Linked DNA regions of Homo sapiens. The protein of the gene in region 3 purifies or fractionates together with the protein of the main gene of each other region. This does not show direct contact. Each region holds a gene or a part of one and is shown on either strand. Other genes may lie near its edges. The genes, in order: ASPSCR1, SHKBP1, GLTP and QKI.

Region 1 (5,323 bases), on a different chromosome or scaffold from region 3:
TCCGCCTGCCTCGGCCTCCGAAAGTGCTGGGATTACAGGCGTGAGCCACTGCGCCCGGGCAGTCAGGTTTTCTGTGGTGGCTCCAGCCGTGACGGCCGGGGTCTGTGACACTCCAGCTTCCGCGAGTGCAGCAGTGTTCACGCCCCAGTCGTTCTCTCTGTGTTTTCCGAGCGTCTGCACTGGGGCTGTCAGCACCCCAGACTCTGAAGGAGCAGCCCCCTCGGCGTGCACCGAGGCCCACATCTCCCTTTTTCCTGCTCCCTTCTGCTTGCAGGAGGCCCCATATGATCGGGGACCCGCCTTGTGCCTCTGCAGGTCATGACGTCCCGCTGTTGGGGAGCTGCCACAGGACGTGGATGGCGGGGCGTGGATGGCGGGGCGTGGATGGTGGGACGGGGATGGCGGGGCGTGGATGGCAGGGCGTGTCAGGCTCTGCAGGGCAGCAAGTGTGCTCTGGTCTGTCTTGCAGGTTTCAGAGGAGCGTGCTCGACCTTTCTCTCCAGTGGAGATTTGCCAACCTGCCCAACAATGCCAAGCTGGAGATGGTGCCCGCTTCCCGGAGCCGTGAGGGGCCTGAGAACATGGTGGGTCGTGCTCTGGGGGAGGCTGACTGTGTGGGGCACAGGATCGTTCAGCTGGCCAGGGACGGGGGACGGGACAGTGGGGGGTGCTGGGGAAGGAGGGACATGAGTCTTAGCACCAGTTCTGCCTTCCCTGGGTTGGGCCCAAACAGCTTCCTGTTTTTTGATAACTGGCAACTGAAAATGAGCATCTCATGTTTTTTTTTTTTTGAGCTGGAGTCTCGCTCTGTCGCCCAGGCTGGAGCTCAGTGGCGCAGTCTCGGCTCACTTCAAGCTCCGCCTCCCGGGTTCACACCATTCTGCCTCAGCCTCCCGAGTAGCTAGGACTACAGGTGCCCGCCACCACACCCGGCTAATTTTTGTATTTTAGTAGAGGCAGGGTTTCACCATGTTGGCCTGCTGGTCTGGAACTGCTGACCTCATGATCTACCCGCCTCGGCCTCCCAAAGTCCTCCCAAAGGATTGCAGGCGTGAGCCTCTGCGCCCCGCCCACGTCATTCTTCATGTGGAAGTTTTTCTTTCTTTCTGGGGTCAGTTGTGCCTTCCCTGGCTCAGGGTGTCAGCAGCATTCACCCACCAGCCTGACCACCTGCTCATAGAATTGCCCAGAATGTTAGAGCCGAAAGCGCTGCATGGATGCCGCAAGGGCAGCCTGTAATCCCAGCACTTTAGGAGGCCGAGGCGGGCAGATCACCTGAGGTCAGGAGTTTGGGACCAGCCGGCCAACATAATGAAACCCCGTCTCTACTAAAAATACAAAAATTAGCCGTGGGTGGTGGCGGATGCCTGTAGTCCCAGCTACTCAGCAGGCTGAGGCAGGAGAATGGCGTGAACCCGGGAGGCGGAGCTTGCAGTGAGCCGAGATTGTGCTGCCACTGCACTCCAGCCTGGGCGACAGAGTGAGACTTTGTCTCAAAAAAAAAAAAAAGAGCAGCAAACATTTACCATCTCATGTGGCTTCTGAGGGTCAGGAATCTGGGAGCAGCTTAGCTCAGTGTCTGTCCTGAGGCTGCAGTCAGGTTCGGTGGAGCTGCAATCTTTTGAAGCCCCCACTGGGACACGAGGACTGTCTCCAACACAGTTCACTCCTGTGGCGCCTGCATGTACCCACACACACCCACACACACCCCCACACACCCACATACCCGCACACCCGTACACACCCCCACACACCCCTGCACACACCCCACACACACCTGCACACCCCCGCACACACACCCCCCACACACACCCACACACACCCCTACAGCAACGTGCACACACCCCCACACCCGCACACACCCGCACACACCCCACACACCTGCACACACCCACACACCTGCGTGCACACCCCCCCACACACCTGCACACACCGCCCACACCAACATGCACACACCTCCCCCCCACACACACCCACGCACACACCTGTACACACACACCTACACATCTGCGCACATACCCGCACACACCTGCATGTAAACATGCACACACACGCACATCTGCACGCACATGCGCACACCTGCACACACCCACACACCAACATGCACACATCCACACACATACCTGCACACAACTGCACACCCCCGCACACACCCACACACACATATGCACACACGCACGCACACCTGCACATACCTGCACACTCACATGCACACACGCATGCTGGTGCAGCCCTGCCGGGGAGCCTCCAAGGCCCTCACTCCAGAGTGAATAGGAGGGTAGCCTTCTCCGTGGGGGTCAGCCTCTCCCTGGAGGCCAGGGCGGGGCAGTCACCCTCTCTGTGTCTGGAGAATCAGTCTGGGATTTAGAAGGAATAGTTGCTTTTCTTCCTAAGGAAGTTTCTCATGTCTTATACCCTCCAGGTTCGCATCGCTTTGCAGCTGGACGATGGCTCGAGGTTGCAGGACTCTTTCTGTTCAGGCCAGACCCTCTGGGAGCTTCTCAGCCATTTTCCACAGATCAGGTGAGCATCAGTGGGCTGGGGGCTCTTCCCTACCCTGTTTGCTGGGGAAGCTGCTGTGGTTACTGGGTCTGGTTCAGAGCTGGACACCCAAGCTCTGTGCTGGCCTGTGGTGCCTCTTGGCACTTTGCAGTCCTTTGTAGAGGAGGGGTGTGTGGGCTGCCGGTTCATGAGCAGCAGCCTCGGGGATGGCTGGTCACAGCTCATCGTTCTGAGTTTCCTGGGCCCAGCGGCCCAGCCTTGCCCACCTAGAAGAGCAGGAATGTGCTTCTGTCCTTGTGGGGGCCTGGTGAGCACTAAGGGGAGACGTTCGGTGCTGGGGGCAGGGCTCCCCATGCTTGATTCCCCTGGATGGGATCATAAGGTCTCTTTTTTTTAAGAGGCAGGGTCTCACTATGTTGGTCACCTAGGCTGCTCTTGAACCCATGGGCTCAAGAAATTCTCCCATCTCAGCCTCCCAAAGCGTTGAGATTACAGGTGTGAGCTCCTGTGCCCCACCAGAAAATCTTCCTAATAGTAATTGGATGGCTGGGCACAGTGGCTGGGCACAGTGGCTGGGCAAAGTGGCTTGCACTTTGGAAGGCCGAGGCTGGCGAATCGCTTGAGCTCATGAGTTCAAGACTAGCCTCGGCAACATAGTGAAACCCCTTCTCTACAAAAAATAGAAATGTTAGGCCAGGCATAGTGCATGGTGGTGCGTGCCTGTGGTCCCAGCTATGCCAGAGGCTGAGGTGGGAGGATCACTTGAGCCGTGGAGGCAGTTGCAGTGAGCCGAGATCGCACTGCTGCACTCCAGCCTGGGCAACAGAACGAGACTCTGTCTCAAAAAAATAAATAAATAAAAATAAGTAATTGATGTGTATCAGTTTCTGTCGGTTAATGGTTTAAACGTTGTTCCTGAATGTGTAAAAATTGGTGCTTTGTCAATTTGGGTCTTTTCATCGTTGGCTGGAAGTCTCTGTCCACAGTAAAAGGCTCAGCAGAATGGAAGGGACTTGGGGCTGGGGTTTGCTGTGAGCCAGGGGGTTCTCGCCCTCCCCGGGCCTCAGTTTCCTCACCTGTGCCCCGGCTGGTGTGTGGATGGGGTGAGTTCATGTCTTGAGGACCGAGCATAGGGCCTGTGGGAAGGTGACCGCGCGTCGGGCGCTGGGAAGGTGACTGTGCGTTGGGCGCGCTTGGTGGCCCCAGGGCTGGGCCTGCTCCCGTCTGACAGTAGTGCCGCGCTGCATGGCACGGGTGTTGCGTTCGTGGGTGAGAGCGCTGAGGTCTGCACGTCGGGTCTCAGTGGTCATGGGGATGGAAGCCACCCCAGTGGCTGTCGGGGTGAATGGAGGCCCCTGGAGATGGCAGCGGGTTAAGCACGAGCACGGAATTCTCCCTCCCAAAACGGAACTCAGACAACAGTGACGGAGCCTAAGAGCAAAGCCAAAGCCACGGGCAGGGGTGAGCGGGACCCGAGGCAGGAGATGACGGAGCCTAAGAGCAAAGCGAAGCCACGGGCAGGGGTGAGCGGGACCCGAGGCAGGAGGTGACAGAGCCTAAGAGCAAAGCGAAGCCACGGGCAGGGGTGAGCGGGACCCGAGGCAGGAGATGACGGAGCCTGAGAGCAAAGCGAAGCCACGGGCAGGGGTGAGCGGGACCCGAGCCAGGAGTGGCGCCGGGCAGGGAGGCAGGCAGCCCCAGGCGCTGTGTGGGCACTGGGTGAGAAGCAGGGATCCCGGCGCCCTGGCTCTGTGCTGCTTCCTGAGACGAGAGTGGCAGAGGGCAAGAAGAAAACCAAACAGCGCGGGGAACAGAAGTCAGGAAAGATGAACGTCTGGAAGGAAATGCCCCTGGGCCGGGCGGTGCCCCCGGGCGTGAACAGAATCCAGTGCTCCCACAGGCACAGGTGCTTGGTGAGGGCCGTCCTCCCTGGCTGTGCTGTCAGTCCTCAGATGGGGATGGAGGTAAGGAAATGGCCCAGAGTGGCCTGGGGCTGCCACTGGGGAGGGGCCGAGGGTGTCTGGAGAGGTGGGGCCGGCATTGTGGTAGCATAAGCCTCTTCAACAGACTTTGTAAACCTCGTGTGAAACTTAGTTTAAGAAACAACAGGCTTGGCCAGGCGTGGTGGTTCTGGAAGTGGCTTTGGAGCTGGCTTTGGTGGTGGCTGTGGGGGTGGGTTTGGGCGCTTTGGAGGAGGTTGCAGTGAGCCGAGATCGCACCATTGCACTCTAGCCTGGGTGACAAGAGCAAAACTCCATCTCAAAAAAACAAAAAAACAAAAGAAACAACAAGGCTGGGCACGGTGGCTCACACCTGTAATCGCAGCACTTTGGGAGGCTGAGGCGGGTGGATCACGAGGTCAGGAGTTCGAGACCAGCCTGGCCAATATGGTGAAACTCCATCTCTACTAAAAATACAAAAATTAGCCGGGCGTGGTGGTGGGTTCCTGTAGTCCCAGCTACTCAGGAGGCTGAGGCAGAAGAATTGCTTGAACCCAGGAGGTGGAGGTTGCAGTGAGCCAAGATTGCACTCAGCCTGGGCAACAGAGCGAGACTCTGTCTCAAAAAAAAAAAAAAAAGAAACAACAGAAGTGGCTGGGCGTGATGGCTCACGCCTGTAATTCCAACCCTTTGGGAGGCCGAGGTGGGTGGATCACCTGAGGTCAGGAGTTCGAGACCAGCCTGGCCAACATGGTGAAAACCCATCTCTACTAAAAATACAAAAATTAGCTGGGCGCAATGGCTCATGCTTGTAGTCCCAGCTACTCAGGAGGCAGGAGAATCACTTGAACCCGGGAGGCGGAGGTTGTAGTGAGCTGAGA
Region 2 (5,323 bases), on a different chromosome or scaffold from region 3:
TACAGACCCAGGAAGGGGTTCACGTCTGCCCCCACCCCCACCCCCTAAGCCTGGAGGAAGCCAGAGAACCAGCAGCTGGCCAGAGCCTGGGGATGTCTGTGATAAAGGCCTAAGGAGCACCAGGGAAGCCTTCCTGGAGGAGGTGCTGCAGAGCCCACATGAAGCATGAATGGGTTTGAAAAGGAGTAGGGAGGATTGTCTTGGGACTGGGTGAGAGAGCAGGTTAGGGGGGATGCTGTAGAAGACAAGAACTGGCTTGGCTCGGTGGCTCACACTTGTAATCCCAGCACTTTGGGAGGCTGAGGTGGGAGGATGGCTTTGGGAGAAAGACAGACAGAGGCAGAGAAAGAGACAGAGAGGCAGAAAACCAGGCAAATAGAAATAGAAAATCAGAAAGAGGTGACAGAGAAGGGTAGACAGAGTCAAACCAGACTGAACCACTGTGGCAGATGGGGGAACTCAGAGAGATAAATGGAGATGAATTAGAGTCATGTCAGAAGTACATAGTGGAGGCCGGGTGCAGTGACTCCCGCCCGTAATCCCAGCACTTTGGGAGGCCGAGGCAAGAGGATGGCTTGAGCCCAGGAGTTTGACGCCAGCCTGGGAAACATAATAAGACTCTGTCTCTACAAAAAATTTAAAAAATTAAAACTTTAAAAAGTACAGAGTCCAGGAGAGGCCAAGAGTCAGACAGACAGATGCATCAAAGGGAGGAAGGGAGGGAACAAGACAGGGACAAAGGCAGGCCTGGGGTGGACGGGGCTGGGGAGCAGTGGGTGGGTTCTGGAGGTGGAGGAGAGGGCCCATCCTCTGTGAGGGGTCACCACGGAAGGAAAGGAATGGAAGGGCTCCCGGCTGCAGCCTGTCCTGCCCCACCCCCAGGTCCAGGAGGTGCAGCCCATCACCAGTTATGACGCGGCAGGCTCCTTCCTCCTCCTGGGCTGCAACAACGGCTCCATTTACTACGTGGGTGAGCAGCAGCCTGTGTCCCGGGTGCCCGAGACCCTCCCCTGGGAGAGGGGAAGGGAGGGAGAGAGGCTGGGGCACTTGGAACAAACCCGCTCCACCCTCCCTGCCCACCCCAGATGTGCAGAAGTTCCCCTTGCGCATGAAAGACAACGACCTCCTTGTCAGCGAGCTCTATCGGGACCCAGCGGAGGATGGGGTCACCGCCCTCAGTGTCTACCTCACCCCCAAGACCAGTAAGCTATGACCCGGCTTCCCCTGCTGCTGTCACCTGCCAGCCCCAGCCCCAGCCTGCAGCTGTCCCCCAACTTGTGTAGCATGACCCAGAGGGGTTTATCGAGGGGCGGCAGATTCAACTCTCTCTCATTTTTTTTTCTGAGACAGACTCTCATTCTGTTGCCCAGGCTGGAGTGCAGTGGTGCAATCTTGGCTCACTGCAACCTCCACCTCCTGAGTTCAAGCGATTCTCCTGCCTCAGCCTCCCAAGTAGCTAGGATTACAGGCGCCCACTGCCACGCCTGGCTAATTTTTGTAGTTTTAGTAGAGATGGGGTTTCACCATGTTGGCCAGGCTGGTCTTGAACTCCTGACCTCAGATGATCCTCCCGCCTCAGCCCCCCAAAGTACTGGGATTACAGACGTGAGCCACCGCGCCCAGCCAGATTCAACTCTCATCCAGTCATTCAACAAATATTTACTGAGTATCCCTGTATATAAGCACGTTCTAGGTGCTAGATGGTGGCCACCCTCTCCACTAGGGGCAGAATGGACCATTAGGAGTTAATCTTTGTGTTTCTTTCCCACCTTTGTGATTAAGGCATGATGTTCACATGTTCATAAAACAACACAGATGCAGGTTTTACAGCAGATGAACCTGAGTTCTCTTACTTGAGACAGTTTTTTGTTTTGTTTTCTTGACATCAAATGCAGAATGGGTTAATTTTTGAGACGTAATTCTCATACCATAAAATTTCCCATTTGAACGTGCACAATTCAGCGGATTTTAGTATATTCACAAGGTTGTACAACTATCACCATGAACAAATTCCAGAGTATGTTCATCACCCCCGTAAGAAACCCCCTGATCTTTAGCAGTAACTCCACATTTCTCACTTCTGATACCCTCTAGAAATCACTAATATGCTTTCTCTTTTTGTTTGAGACAAGGTCTCGCTCTGCTGCCCAGGCTGGAGTGCAGTGGCATGATCTCAGCTCACTGCAATCTCTGCCTCTTGGGTTCAAGCGATTCTCATGCCTCAGCTTCCTGAGTAGGGGAGGATTACAGGTGTGCATCACCATGCCTGGCTAATTTTTCTACTTTAAGTAGAGACTGGGTTACGCCACGTTGGCCAGGCTCAATATGCTTCCTATACCTATGGATTTGCCTGTTCTGGACAATTCCTGTAAATGGGATCATACATTATATGGTCTTTTGTGTCTGCATTTTTCACTTAGCATATTTTTTTAAATGGTTAGTGTTTTCTGGGTCTTAAGATATCCTTACCTATTCTAGGTTACAAAGATCTTCTCCTGAATTTCTTCTAGAAGATTTACAGTTTAGTTTTTACATGGAAGTCTGTTCTATCAGAAATTAAATTTTATGTATGGTGTGAAGCAGGGATTATTCTTTTTTAAAAAAAAATAGAGACAGGGTCTTGCTCTGTTGCCCAGGCTAGAGTGCAGTGGCATGATGTGAGTTCTCTGCCACCTCCGCCACTCGGGCTCAAGCGATTCTTCTACCTCAACCTCCTGAACAGCAGAACCACAGGCATGCATCACCACACCTGTCTAATTTTTGTATTTTTTTGTAGAGACAGGGTTTTGCCATGTTGCCCAGGCTACTCTTGAACTCCTGGGCTCAAGTGATCCTCACACTTTGGCCTCCAAAGTGCTGGAAATACAGACTTGAGTCACTGTGCTTGGCCATAGCTGCTGCTGCTGCTTTTCTTTTTTTTTTAAAGCAGAAATAAGTTAATAATACACCTAACTTCATGACACATTATCACCTTTCTTCTTTGTAAGGCCCTTTTCTTATTTCTTTTTTTTCTTTCTTTCTTTTTTTTTTTTTTTGTCTTTTCCTGAGACAGAGTATCGCTCTGTCATTCAACCCAGGCTGGAGTGCAATGGCGCAATCTCAGCTCACTACAACCTCTGCCTCCTGGGTTCAAGCAATTCTCCAGACTCAGCCTCCCAAGTAGCTGGGATTACGGGTGCCTGCCACCATGCCCAGCTAATTTTTGTGTTTTTAGTAGAGGCAGGGTTTTGCCACGTTGGCTAAGCAAGTTTTGAACTCCTGGGATTCTCCTCTCGTCGTCTCCCAAAGTGCTGGAATTACAGGCATGGGCTGCTGCACCCGGCCTCTTTCTTATTTCACTTACTTACTCATTTCCTCCTCATCTCCCTTCCCGCCACATGCCACTATTATGTCATTTTTCTTTGTTTTTTGAGACAGTCTCGCTTCGTCACCTAGGCTGGAGTGCAGTGGCGCAATCATAGCTCACTGCAGCCTCACCCCCTGGGCTCAAGTGATCCTCCTACTTCAGCCTCTTGAGTAGCTGGGATCATAGGTGAATGCCATCACACCCAACTAGTTTTTTAAAAATCTTTTGTAGAGATGAGGGTCTCACTATGTTGCCCAGGCTGGCCTCAAACGCCTGGCCTCAAGCAATCTTCCTGCCTCGGCCTCTGTTCTCTGTTTTACTTTCTCTTTCCTCTCTTATTTGCTGTTTCACTGTTACAATTTCTGTCTCTGGGCCTCTCCTCCTTTGACCTGTGCCTTTGTCTCCCTGTTCCTCCATTTCCCACATCTCATCACCATCTTTTTGTGTCCTTCCCTCTCTCCTTGCTTTCTGACTGTGTCTCTGTTCTGTGTCTCTTTCTTTCTTTCTTTCTTTTTTTTTTTTTGAGACAGAGTCACATTCTGTCATGCAGGCTGGAGTGCAGTGGCGTGGTCTTGGCTCATTGCAACCTCTGCCTCCTGGGTTCAAGCAATTCTCATGCCTCAGCCTTCTGAGTAGCTGGGATTACAGGTGCGTACTACCACCACCAGCTAATTTTTGTATTTTTACTAGAGACAGGGTTTCAGCACGTTGGCCAGGCTGGTCTTGAACGCCTGACCTCAAGCGATCCACCCGCCTCAGCTTCCCAAAGTGATGGGATTACGGCGTGAGCCACCGTGCCCGGCCTCTCCTTGCTTTCTGACTGTGTCTCTGTTCTGTGCCTGTTTCTTTCTCCCTGCCCTGGTTTCTGTCTCTGTGGCCCAGGCCCTCTCCTCATCCTTGGCCCCTCACCAGGTGACAGTGGGAACTGGATCGAGATCGCCTATGGCACCAGCTCAGGGGGCGTGCGGGTCATCGTGCAGCACCCGGAGACTGTGGGCTCGGGGCCTCAGCTCTTCCAGACCTTCACTGTGCACCGCAGCCCTGTCACCAAGATCATGCTGTCGGAGAAGCACCTCATCTCAGGTGAGCCTCTGTGGGGTGCTCCAGTGCTGGGAGAGACAGCTCAGATGGGAGTGTGGAGACAGGAGGATGAGAATTTCCACTGGGGAGGGACATTGTGTAGGAAGAGAGCTCTGGCGGAGAGGATTGACCTGGGATGGGACTGTAATTGCAGAAGTGAGAGAATACCATAGGGGATCAGTCTGGGGAAGAGTGAATCTGTGTGTGTTTGGGAATCCATCAATTCAGCAACGATTTACGGGGCACCCACCATGTGCCAGGCATAGGGGATACAGTGATGAACAAGACAGGCCAAGTCCCTGCCCTCGTGGAGCTGACATTCTAGCAGCGATGGCAGACAATAAATCTATAAAAATGGACATCAATGGCCAGCTGCGGTGGCTCACACCTATAATCCCAGAACTTTGGGAGGCCAAGGCGGGTAGATTACTTGAGGTCAGGAGTTCGAGACCAGCCTGGCCAACATGGTGAAACCCCACCTCTACCAAAAATATAAAAAATTAGCCAGGTGTGGTGGCACGTGCCTGTAATCCCCGCTACTCGGGAGGCCGAGGGAGGAGAATTGCTTGAACCTGGGAGGCGGAGATTGCAGAGAGCCCAGATCATGCTACTGCACTCCAGCCTAGGCAACAGAGCGAGACTCCATCTCAAAAATAAATAGATAAAAATGCAAATCAGGCTGGGCACTGTGGCTCATGCCTATAATCCCAGCACTTTGGGAGGCCAAGGTGGGAGGATTGCTTGAGGCTAGGAGTGTGAGACCAACCTGGACAACAAAGTGAGACATTGTTTCTACAAAAAATTTTTAAAAAATTAGCCAAGTATGGTGGCATGCACCTGGGGTCCCAGCTTCTTGGGAGGCTGAGGTGGAGGGATCACTTGAGCCCAAGAGTCAGG
Region 3 (5,323 bases):
GGCATGTTAGCATTCTCCTGTAATCCCAACTACTCGGGAGGCTGAGGCAGAAGAATCCCTTGAACCTGGGAGGCGGAGGTTGCAGTGAGCTGAGATTGCACCACTGTACTTCAGCCTGGGCAGCAGAGTGAGACTCCGTCTCAAAATAAATCAACTAAACTAAACTAAAATAAGATACATGACTAAATTAAAATACATAACCCCCTCATAGCCTGTACTTGTGGCAGACATCATTAATCAATCATGATGCTGTTTTCCCCTTTGAGCCTAAACACAGCCTCGGCATCTTTATTAACACAGCCACTCCAGGTCAGTTAGAGTGCTGCATGAGATGATACCTATTTGCTCTCACTGTTTAGGGAGAGTCTAGAGATGGAAGAGCTGAAGGTAATGATTCTTCATTACCTCTCGGTTCTTGAGATCCAAATTCTGGGGTTGATTTTTCTTCATGCCTCTTACCTTAATTAAATGGATGTCTGTGGAATGTGGCCTTCTAGGTATCCGGCACGCATTAAATAGTCCTAGAGTGAACCCAGAAAGAGTGGTTTTCCATCACTTTTGGTTCAGTGCTTGTTCCATTTTGGGGGAGGGTGGCAGTGGCAGCCTAGAATCAGAGATTTATCTTGTTTTACAGCCAAAGAAACCGAGGCCAGAGAGGTTAGGTGACTTGCTCAGGGTCACACAGCCAGTGAGTGACCAGTAAAGCCAGACTAGAACTTGGGCCTCTGGACACCTTATGCACCAGACTAGAACTCAGTCCTCTGGACTCCTTATGTGGTGCTCTTGCTGTCATGCCTGCTGTCCTGGCTTTCTCTCTGGCAAAGGAGAAGACCCCCAGTGGAGCCAGCCTGGTTGGGTACTTGAGGAATTCCAGTGGTTCTGCTGGCACCATGGTGACTTGTCCACATGACAAGTGGTGTGGGTGCCACAGACCAGACATGCAGGTTTGCTCTGAGGTGTGTAACTCATAAACAGCCCGCCAAGCTGGTCCATAACTCCTGTTTATTTGAATGTAAATTAGAAAATGACTGGAGTGTTGAAATCGTCTTGTGGGAAAAGCCCCAAACAAGTTGGCTGGTTGTGTGTGTGTGTGTGTGTGTGTTTTGTTTAAGAGACAAGGTCTTGCTTCATCGCCCAGACTGGCATGCAGTGGGGTGATCACAGCTCACTGCAGCCTCCAGCTCCTGGGCTCAAGTGATCCTCCTGCCTCAGCCTCATAAGTAGTTGGGATTATAGGCGTGTGCCACGGCGCTCAACTCTTGCTTTTTTTTTTTTTTTTTTTTTTTGAGACAGAGTCTTGCTCTATTGCCCAGGCTGGAGTGCAGTGGCACGATCTCGGCTCACTGCAACCTCTGCGTCCTGGGTTCAAGTGATTCTCCTGGCTCAGCCTCCCCAGTAGCTGGGATTACAGATGTGCACCACCATGCCCGGCTAATTTTTTGTATTTTCACTAGAGACAGGGTTTCACCATGCTGGCTAGGCTGGTCTTGAACTCCTGACCTCATGATCCACCCACGTCAGCCTCCCAAAGTGCTGGGATTACAGGCGTGAGCTACCGCGCCCAGCCTCAGCTCTGGCTTTTCCTTCATCTGGGACATCAGGCTAACTGGGAACCAGCCCCACCTGTACCCCTTGATCTGTGAGTTAGAAGCTCCCCCACTGCAACAAGCATCCTCTGAGATTTGGGACCACCTACCACAGCCTTACAATATTTTCTGCTTTTTTTTTTTTAAATTTAAAGTTAATGCTAATACCTGTTTATTTTTGGTTTTGTATAGAACAGGGGTGTACAATTTTTTGGATTCCCAGGGCCACACTGGAAGAATTGTCTTGGGCCACACATGAAATACACTAACGCTAATGATAGCTGAGGAGCTAAAAACCAAAACAAAACAAAACAAAACTCAAATCTCATAATGTTTTAAGAAAGTTTATGAATTTGTATTGGGCCACATTCAAAGCGGTCCTGGGCCACATGCAGCCTGCGGTCTGCGGGTTGGACAAGGTTGGTGAAGAATATCCCAAGAAAGACAAGAAACTGTATTAACCCTCCTAATATAGCAGGTGAGTTATCATTTTGATTGACTGTTGAGAGCTGGATTCTAGTGGAATGTGATTTAGATTGTGTGCCTGGGAGGGACCCTGAGAAGATGAAACAAATAATGTCTTGTTGGAGGAAGAAGCCAGAGAGACACTTTCTGCAATGGCTGTACAATTTTGAAACTGCTGGCAGACTTCGGAGATGCATTTGCAAGTAGTAAGTGAGGCTTTTTTAGCCTTCAGGAACACCTGCTGTGTGCTGGTGCCGTGCTGGTGGGTCCCACTCTTGATCCCACCTGGCCAGAGAACAATCTGGAAGGAGGGCTATGGAGGGCCCTATTGTGTTTTTCTGTCCATGTGTGTAACAGCCCATGAGTCGGCTGTTTTTGAGGCTCAGAGGGGAGAAGTCACTTTGAGTCTGATTCTCTTCCTCTGACATCCATGCCCTGAACACCGTGGACAGATGAGTGGAAGGAAACACGGAGACTGGCATCCATCTGAGCCAGCCTGAGCTTGAGAGGCCCCGAGGTGGCTTCTTTTTGGCAGCTCCGTTTCCCAACAGCTGTGTGGCAAAAGGCCCACTTCCTAAAGGTCTAGGGCCATCCATCCTACCTTTGGAAAGATGTGGTGAGTCCAGGCAGGAGCACCAAAATCAATGCCTGACTTGGTGAATGACTGCCAGGGCACAGAGCCAGCTGCATGGCTGCTTAAGTCTGACAATTGCTCCAGCAGCCTCCTTTATAATGTCCAAAGGCCAGAGTACATACAGACCAGTGGCACCCGCCCACCCGGTCCTGGGATGGTGGTGATTAGATCTTTGTGTTCAGAAAAATCTGGCCCTTGAGGTCAGAGCCTGAGGTTTGGCCTCTCTGCTGCCAGAAGGACGAGGATTGAGTAGGAGGGGAGAGACTACAGTTGCTTGCTAACTCATCTTGCCCCTCCTCTGCTGCACAGGGATGCTTGGAGGGACAGCCCTCCACTGTGAATCCCTTGGGGCAGAAGTCAGGCCCTCCCAGGACCCACCAATGGGCTTCTGCAGCATGGGCGCCCAGCCTATATCCACGTGAAAAGGAATGGGAGGAATTCATGACAAAGGGCTTTATAAAATATAACGTATGACCGTGATCATAACTAGCATCATCTCTATTTTGAGTGGCTCCCAGGATATGCCATTGAATTAGGCAGTAACTCATTTCTAATCCTCATGATGAACTTAGGAGGAATTTGGCACCATTTTCCAGAAGAGGAAACCAATGTGCAGGGAGGTGAAGCGATTTGATCAGGTCATGAAGGTAGGAAGTGGTCCACAGGACTTTACAGCAGGTCTAGCCCTGTAACAGGGGAGACCAACACCACATCAGGAAACAGGAAGACGTTGGAAGTCGTCTCTAGGGCAGAAATGTCCCTTGTAGGGGAGGAGGGGAAATGATAGGAAGTTCCCGGCTGGCATGACAATGTGATTATTTCAATGAGCTTCTTAGAATGGAAATATTGGGGCCGGGCGCAGTGGCTCATGCCTGTAATCCCAACACTTTGGGGGGCCGAAGCGGGTAGATCACGAGGTCAGGAGTTTGAGACCAGCCTGGCCAACATGGTAAAACCCTGTCTCTACTAAAAATACAAAAAAAAATTGGCCAGGTGTGGTGGCGCAATCCTGTAATCCCAGCTACTCTGAAGGCTGAGGCAGGAGAATCGCTTGACCCAGGAGGCGGAGGTTACAGTGAGTCGAGATCACGCCACTACTCCAGCCTGGGACAGAGCGAGAGTCCGTCTCAGAAAAAAAAAAAAAAAAAAAAAAGAATGGAAATGTTGGGTCCTAGTCTTAGGTTTCATTGTTTCAGTAAAAACCTGCCAGAGTGAATGTTAACTCCTTTTATTACGTACTTACAGTGGTACTTATATGGAGGCCTTTTTTGTGGTTCTTGCTAGAGTGTTAACTGTATCTGAGCTTTTCAAAGTCATTGCAGTGGATCAGCCCTCTCCAGGGTCTTCTAGAAGCCTCTGCTTTCCACCCTGGCAGTTAGGCAGTCGACTCACACTTCCCCTGTGTTCAGAAATGATTCATTTTCTGCCTTGCTGTTCCTCCAAGTTCCTTACTTCACTCCCTTCTGAGATCTCTGTCTTAATGGTCTGGAATACATTTGAAGTCATTATTTTATGATGGGGAGATTTCTGCTAATTTTACCCCTAACAATCAATCAATGAGTCAATAATTCTTTTTCTCCCTCCTCCCTTCCTTCCTCTCCTTCTGCTTTGATTTCTTAATCATTGGAATAATTGTTTTCTGGATTTCCTCTCTAAAGAAAAGCTTTGTCTGTTGGGAAAGGTGATGATGATATAATTTATAATAATAAGCATAAATGATAATACCTTCTTTTTATTTTATTTTATTTTATTTTATTTTATTTTTGAGACAGAGTCTTGCTCTGTCACCAAGGCTGGAGTGCAGTGGCATGATCTCGGCTCACTGCAACCTCCACCCTCCCCCTAGGTTCAAGCAATTATCTTACCTCAGCCTCCCAAGTAGCTGGAATTATAGGCACACACCACCACACCCAGTTAATTTTTGTATTTTTAGTAGAGATGGGGTTTCACCATGTTGGCCAGGCTGGTCTTGAACTCCTGACCTCAGGTGATTTGTCCGCTACAGCCTCCCAAAGTGCTGGGATTACAGGCCTGAGCCATGGTGCCCAGCCTAATACCTTCTTTTTCACTGAGCACTTACTAGGTACCAGAAACTGTGCTTAGGCCTTTATTTATACAACTTTATTTAAGCCTCACAGCAACCCTTTGAAGAAGGGTCCATTATGAGCCTCATTTTAAAAATGAGGAAACTTGCCGAGTGCGGTGGCTCATGCCTGTAACCCCAGCACTTTGGGAGGCCCAGGCAGGCAGATCTCTTGAGGTCAGAAGTTCGAGATATGGTGAAACCTTGTCTCTTTTAAAAATACAAAAATTAGCCAGGCATGGTGGCACAAGCTACTCAGGAGGCTGAGGCAGGAGAATGGTGCGAACCTGGGAGGTGGAGGTTGCAGTGAGCCGAGATCGCGCCACTGCACTCCAGCCTGGGCAACAGAGTGAGAGTCTCAAAATAATGATAATAGTTTTCCCAGTTGAGTGTGGTGGCTCACACCTGTAATCCCAGCACTTTGGGAGGCCGAGGCAGGCGGATCACAAGGTCAGGAGATCAAGACCATCCTGGCCAACATGGTGAAACCCTGTCTCTACTAAAATACAAAAAAACAAAAAAAAAAAAATTAGCTGGGTGTGGTGGTGCTTGCCT
Region 4 (5,323 bases), on a different chromosome or scaffold from region 3:
TTTTGATAAGTTTTAATTTTCAAATGACTAGTTTTTAGCAAATAAGTTGAAGTTTTATTATAATGGATTTGATTCTTCTTTTCCAATAGTAGCTTACTTATTTCGTTTTTAACAAATAATTTCTGTGTCTTTCTAAGATCATACTTACTTTTTGTTCATCTTTGTACAAGTTGATAGGAGTCAAATTCTACAGGCATGCCAGTATCCACTCCCTGTAATCTTCTGCAAAGTAGGTTTTTAAAAAGTTGGCAGTAGCACATCAAAACATTGTCTTTATGTTTCACTCATATTTTTCTTTAATTCTTGTGATTTACTAAAAGCTCACTGAACAGTTCTGTTTACTATATATTATAGTATACCATTCACCATTGTAATGCCAAAAACAGAATTTTGTGTGTCATTACAGCTATAATAGAAAGGAGCACTGAGAAGCCTGTGTCCTGGTCGTCCTTCCCGTTTTATGAATCAGAGAGGAACAAGACTATGTCAGAAAATTGTTGCATTGTGTTACTTTCATTGTAAATATCACAAAGTCATGTAAAGTTACTGGGATTCGATGATACATAAAAGTGGGGGGCAGTTAGTTCTATCTCTACACAGACTTTGATAGATGGACCCTCATCTACTGCTTGCTTTGACTGTGGCTAAAGTTTATGTTGGACTGAGACATTTGGGATTTGGAAATAAAGTTAAAGACTTCTCATACCAGTCACTTATAAGTTCTAGTAAGTAACTTGGGGGTGGCCGTGGGAACATGGGGTTAGGCAGTGGTAACAAAGAAATAAGCCCTATTCTCATGGAGCTTACTTTGGGAGTGGTGATACTCAACAGACTGTAATTTGAAGTAGAAGCAATTAACTTTGTCGATAGGTTCTTGGAGATACAACTTTAAACAAAATGAGTATATTGCAGCCTCTTTTTTCATCAATGTTATAATGAAACCATGTTGAAAGCAGTGGCATTATTTGAGGACCTGCTGTCTGTCGTTTCACTTAAAGTTAGTTTTAAAGAATGTATTGACCACATTAAGTGAGGATCTACTGTAATCTAGGGATGGCCCCTGGAGAAGGAAGGTAGCATTTAGGTTGAAGTTTGTGGGGATGGGGATAGGTAGGATTTGGAAAGAGAGAGGGGCAGAGAGTGCGCAGGGGAGCACTTAGGATGGAGGAAGTGGGAATATGCACAGAGATGAATGGTGGAGAGCAATCTGGTTTGACTTAAGATGTTACTTACATACGTGTGTAAAGTAGTAGGTTAATGGGCTTAACTTGAGAGGATATTTTGGGACCAGATTATAGGCAACTAAAGTTTTTTATATTTTTAGATAGTAAGAAACCATGAAAGTGTTTTGAGACAGAATGTTGAGAAACATGATGAAAATTGTGATTTGGGCAATTAATCTGGCCTTTGTGTAGAGATTGATTGGAGAACAGACACCATTAGCAACATGTTTTAGTAGTTTGGGTGCTATGCCAAAAACAACTGGAACAGTAAATGGAAAGAGTGGGACCAATTCAAGGTAAATGGGGTGGCCAAACATTTTGATGATTAGAGACTATCCTGATTTAGGTTTGAAGCATGGTTATTATTAGTGCCCATTTTTGCTTTTAAAAGTTTTCTGCTTTGGACAATAAATCATATGGTGACCCTAAAGATAGATTGCTGTAGCATTGATAGCACTTGCTAATTAGATTGAAAGGAGACAGGGATGGTGGTGTAAGAGAGCAGAATATACGGTTTTTTAGAAGTTATTATTTCACTGAGTTTTCATATTTTGAAGAATTAAGCATAAAATTTCCTTACCTAAATTCTGTAATCAAATCTTGTATGTTTAAAATTATTTGTGTGCACATGTGCACGCGCGTGTGTGTATGTGTGTGTTTAACGAACACATTTGAGTTTTGGAATATTCAGCAAAATGATAGTTGCTGGCTGGGTGCAGTGGCTCACACTTGTAAACTTAGCACTTTGGGAGGCTGAAGCAGGAGGATCACTTGAAGCCAGGAGTTTGAGACCAGCCTGGGCTACAAAACGAGACCTTGTCTCTACAAAAAATAAAAAAAATTAGCCAGGCATGGTGGCGCGTGCCTCTAGTCGCAGCTACTTCGGAGGCTGAGGTAGGAGGATGGCTCGAACCTAGGAATTCAAGGTGGCTGTGAGCTAGGATCATGCCACAGCACTCCAGCCTGGGTAACAGAGCAAGACCCTGTATCTAAAAACAATAAAATTAATTAAAGTAATTTTAAAATGATAGATGCTGAAGAGAATATGTTATGTTTAGTCTTATCTCACATTTTCATTCATTTCTATTTAAAAGTAAAGCTTTTTAGGGGAACTTTAATAAATCGGTGTAACTGACAAAAAATTTACAAATACAATATGCTGTATATCAACATGCCTTTACTGAGAAAACAGAGAAAGCAGGCTCCATTATGTTAGCACCTTTTGGTTCTTGATCTTTTTTTCCCCTTATTAAAACAGGTGACTGTAGTCACATGATACTTACTTTAAGGCTTGTGTGTAGATATAGCTATTATATTTGTGGACAGTCTCAAATGCTTTCATCTCATGTGTTTTCCATGTATAGGCAGAAGGAGAAGACAGCCTGAAGAAGATGCAGCTGATGGAGCTTGCGATTCTGAATGGCACCTACAGAGATGCCAACATTAAATCACGTAAGAATGAGCTCTGAGGCCCAGGGTTACTGCTGTCTGCGTTGTTTTGTCTACAGACTTTTTTCCTTTTGGCAACACAATAATAGTTCATACAAAGTGAACAGTTGAAATAACTGTTCTGTCACTTGATATGGGGCTGACAGTCCTATTTTTAATGCTTTCATGAATTGAGGACACTCTTGATTTTATTTTATGTCAGCATGTTGAAGTTTTAGGTTGATAAACTTACATTATTTTAACAAAATCACAATCTCTAAATTCAAGTGTTTAAGAAATTTTCTGTTTGGTTAACTACAGATGTAGGGCTTGCAGCTTATCTTGTTAAATTTATGCAAAAGACAACATATTGAAAGCTTATTTTGAAAAAGTGAATTTGAAGTGTATCTGACTGAAATGACCCTCTGTTGAGTTCTGTCCTTTCACTTTGCTTGCATGTTTTCCCTCTAGTATTTTTCCCTGTTGATTTCATATGTGAGTTCACAGAGATCAGTGGGTGATAACTCTTTTTCCGTCCTATTTTTGTTTTTATGCGTATCTATGCATGTTTTTATAAGCCGTAAGAGGATAGCTTTTTTATGTTTAAAATGAAATAATGTGAAATTTATATTTTGAAACAATTTAAGATTCATACATGTCATTTATATGAACATACCATGTTTAAATTACTGATTATTTAAAACACATAGAATTTTTAAGTTCTAGCCAGATTTAGAAGATGTAGGCAACCTCTAGTGGGTTTAGAAGTAGTTACTTTACAAATTGTTGACATTAATTTACTCATGAAAATGTGAGTATATCATTAATAGGAATTTAGAAGTAGGGCTTTTTAAGATTTTCTGTGACGTTGGTTCCTAAAGATGCAGGAAATGTACATATATACCTAGTGGTTACTTGACTAAATGCAATAAAAATTATTCTTTCTTTACTTTGAAACTAAAGCTGTACTTTAGAAATATACCAAAACTGAGTTTCTGTGGACTCCGGTTACAAATTATTTTTTAACATCTGTTAATGCAAGTGTTTCATTGTGCTTCTGCATGTACTTTAGTCTTATGAAATCTTAGATATATCAAATGTATGAACTAAATATAACCTATTTAATGGTGTCATTCATTTTTTTACAATGGCTTTTTAATTTTTGCACATTCTTAATCACATTGGGAAAGGGAAAGCTGTTTGCATTTGATTGGTGTGCTTTTGCATTTTTGTGTGATCAGCGCATGTACTAATGATTTCCTTTTATTTTTCTTCTTTCCTGCTTTTCCTTTCTTTTTCCTACTCCCTTCTCATTTTTCCGTATTTTATACTGCTGTCTCTATACTTCTTTCTAAATTTCTTTGCTTACTGTAGCAGCCCTTGCCTTTTCTCTTGCAGCAACAGCCCAGGCTGCTCCAAGGATCATTACTGGGCCTGCGCCGGTTCTCCCACCAGCTGCCCTGCGTACTCCTACGCCAGCTGGCCCTACCATAATGCCTTTGATCAGACAAATACAGACCGCTGTCATGCCAAACGGAACTCCTCACCCAACTGCTGCAATAGTTCCTCCAGGGCCCGAAGCTGGTTTAATCTATACACCCTATGAGTACCCCTACACATTGGCACCAGCTACATCAATCCTTGAGTATCCTATTGAACCTAGTGGTGTATTAGGTAAGTTCTTCTCCCCATGGGGTTAACAACATTCTCTTTATAAATATTTTTGCTCCCTCAGATTTTGAAATGATTTTATCAGTTTTAGAGAGGCAAGACAAGTTTGCATTAGGGAAGACCGAAAACTAAATTTTGTTTTATTTCAGCCTCTCATAAGGGTTCCCCTTTGAAATAATTGCACCTTAAATTTATTCAGATCCACTTTGGTAACTGAGGTTCAGTTTGGTTGGGTAAATCTGTTGTGTACATTTCAACAAATACTTTTACATTTGACATTACTGAGGTCATTCTGAGTTTTAGGTCCCACCCCATTGGCCCGTCACCTCCATCAGCTCCACTTCTCAAACTTTATTTGAGATTTATTTTATCTCACAGGTTTGTGTAATTGTTGGAAAATTTTTAAACTTCTAAGTGAAAGTAGTCTGAGCGCTTTATAAAATTCATATTATTGTGTGTGTTTTGTAATATTTGCGATCACTTAAAATATCAGATAAATACAGTCATGCATCGCTTAACAACGGGGATACAGTCTAAGAATTGCCTTGTCTGGCAGTTTCATCATTTGGTGTACATCATAGAGTGTACTTACACAGACATAGATGATATCGTTTACTACACACCTAGGCTGTGTGGTATAGCCATTATAATCTTATGGGACCACATAGTATAAGTGGTCCGTTGTTGACCAAAATGTTGTTATGCAGGCATGACTGTAGTTGTATTCTTAAGATTTTTCAGTTCTTGTGTTTTGGAGTCCTAGTCATATTAAACATGAGAGATACTCTTAATTTCAGTAGTACAGTATGGAATAGTTAAATAAATAGCAAATCACTGAATTCAGAATCTCACTTAAGGCAGAAATTAAAATCATAATATAAACGCTTGGTTTTACATGAACAAAAAGTGGTGTGCTCGAAAAAGACATTACTGATGCCTTTTTTTTATAGAGTGGATTGAAATGCCAGTCATGCCTGATATTTCAGCCCATTGACTTGCTG

The links.
Region 1: the proteins of GLTP (region 3) and ASPSCR1 purify together in Homo sapiens (affinity purification with mass spectrometry; 2 studies listed by BioGRID and IntAct, with this or other methods). This does not show direct contact.
Region 2: the proteins of GLTP (region 3) and SHKBP1 purify together in Homo sapiens (affinity purification with mass spectrometry; 2 studies listed by BioGRID and IntAct, with this or other methods). This does not show direct contact.
Region 4: the proteins of GLTP (region 3) and QKI purify together in Homo sapiens (co-immunoprecipitation; one large-scale study listed by IntAct). This does not show direct contact.

The regions. Positions count from the first base shown.
Region 1 is NC_000017.11:81,983,085-81,988,407, forward strand, and holds part of ASPSCR1 (tether containing UBX domain for GLUT4), read left to right. Parts: intron 1-469; coding exon 470-584; intron 585-2,422; coding exon 2,423-2,523; intron 2,524-5,323. UniProt on the Homo sapiens protein: Tethering protein that sequesters GLUT4-containing vesicles in the cytoplasm in the absence of insulin. Modulates the amount of GLUT4 that is available at the cell surface. Enhances VCP methylation catalyzed by VCPKMT.
Region 2 is NC_000019.10:40,582,516-40,587,838, forward strand, and holds part of SHKBP1 (SH3KBP1-binding protein 1), read left to right. Parts: intron 1-882; coding exon 883-970; intron 971-1,085; coding exon 1,086-1,202; intron 1,203-4,228; coding exon of another isoform or gene 4,229-4,258; coding exon 4,259-4,429; intron 4,430-5,323.
Region 3 is NC_000012.12:109,869,597-109,874,919, reverse strand, and holds part of GLTP (glycolipid transfer protein), read left to right. Parts: intron 1-5,323. UniProt on the Homo sapiens protein: Accelerates the intermembrane transfer of various glycolipids. Catalyzes the transfer of various glycosphingolipids between membranes but does not catalyze the transfer of phospholipids. May be involved in the intracellular translocation of glucosylceramides.
Region 4 is NC_000006.12:163,559,395-163,564,717, forward strand, and holds part of QKI (KH domain-containing RNA-binding protein QKI), read left to right. Parts: intron 1-2,587; coding exon 2,588-2,675; intron 2,676-4,025; coding exon 4,026-4,325; coding exon of another isoform or gene 4,326-4,351; exon of another isoform or gene 4,352-5,272; coding exon of another isoform or gene 5,273-5,316; exon of another isoform or gene 5,317-5,323. UniProt on the Homo sapiens protein: RNA reader protein, which recognizes and binds specific RNAs, thereby regulating RNA metabolic processes, such as pre-mRNA splicing, circular RNA (circRNA) formation, mRNA export, mRNA stability and/or translation.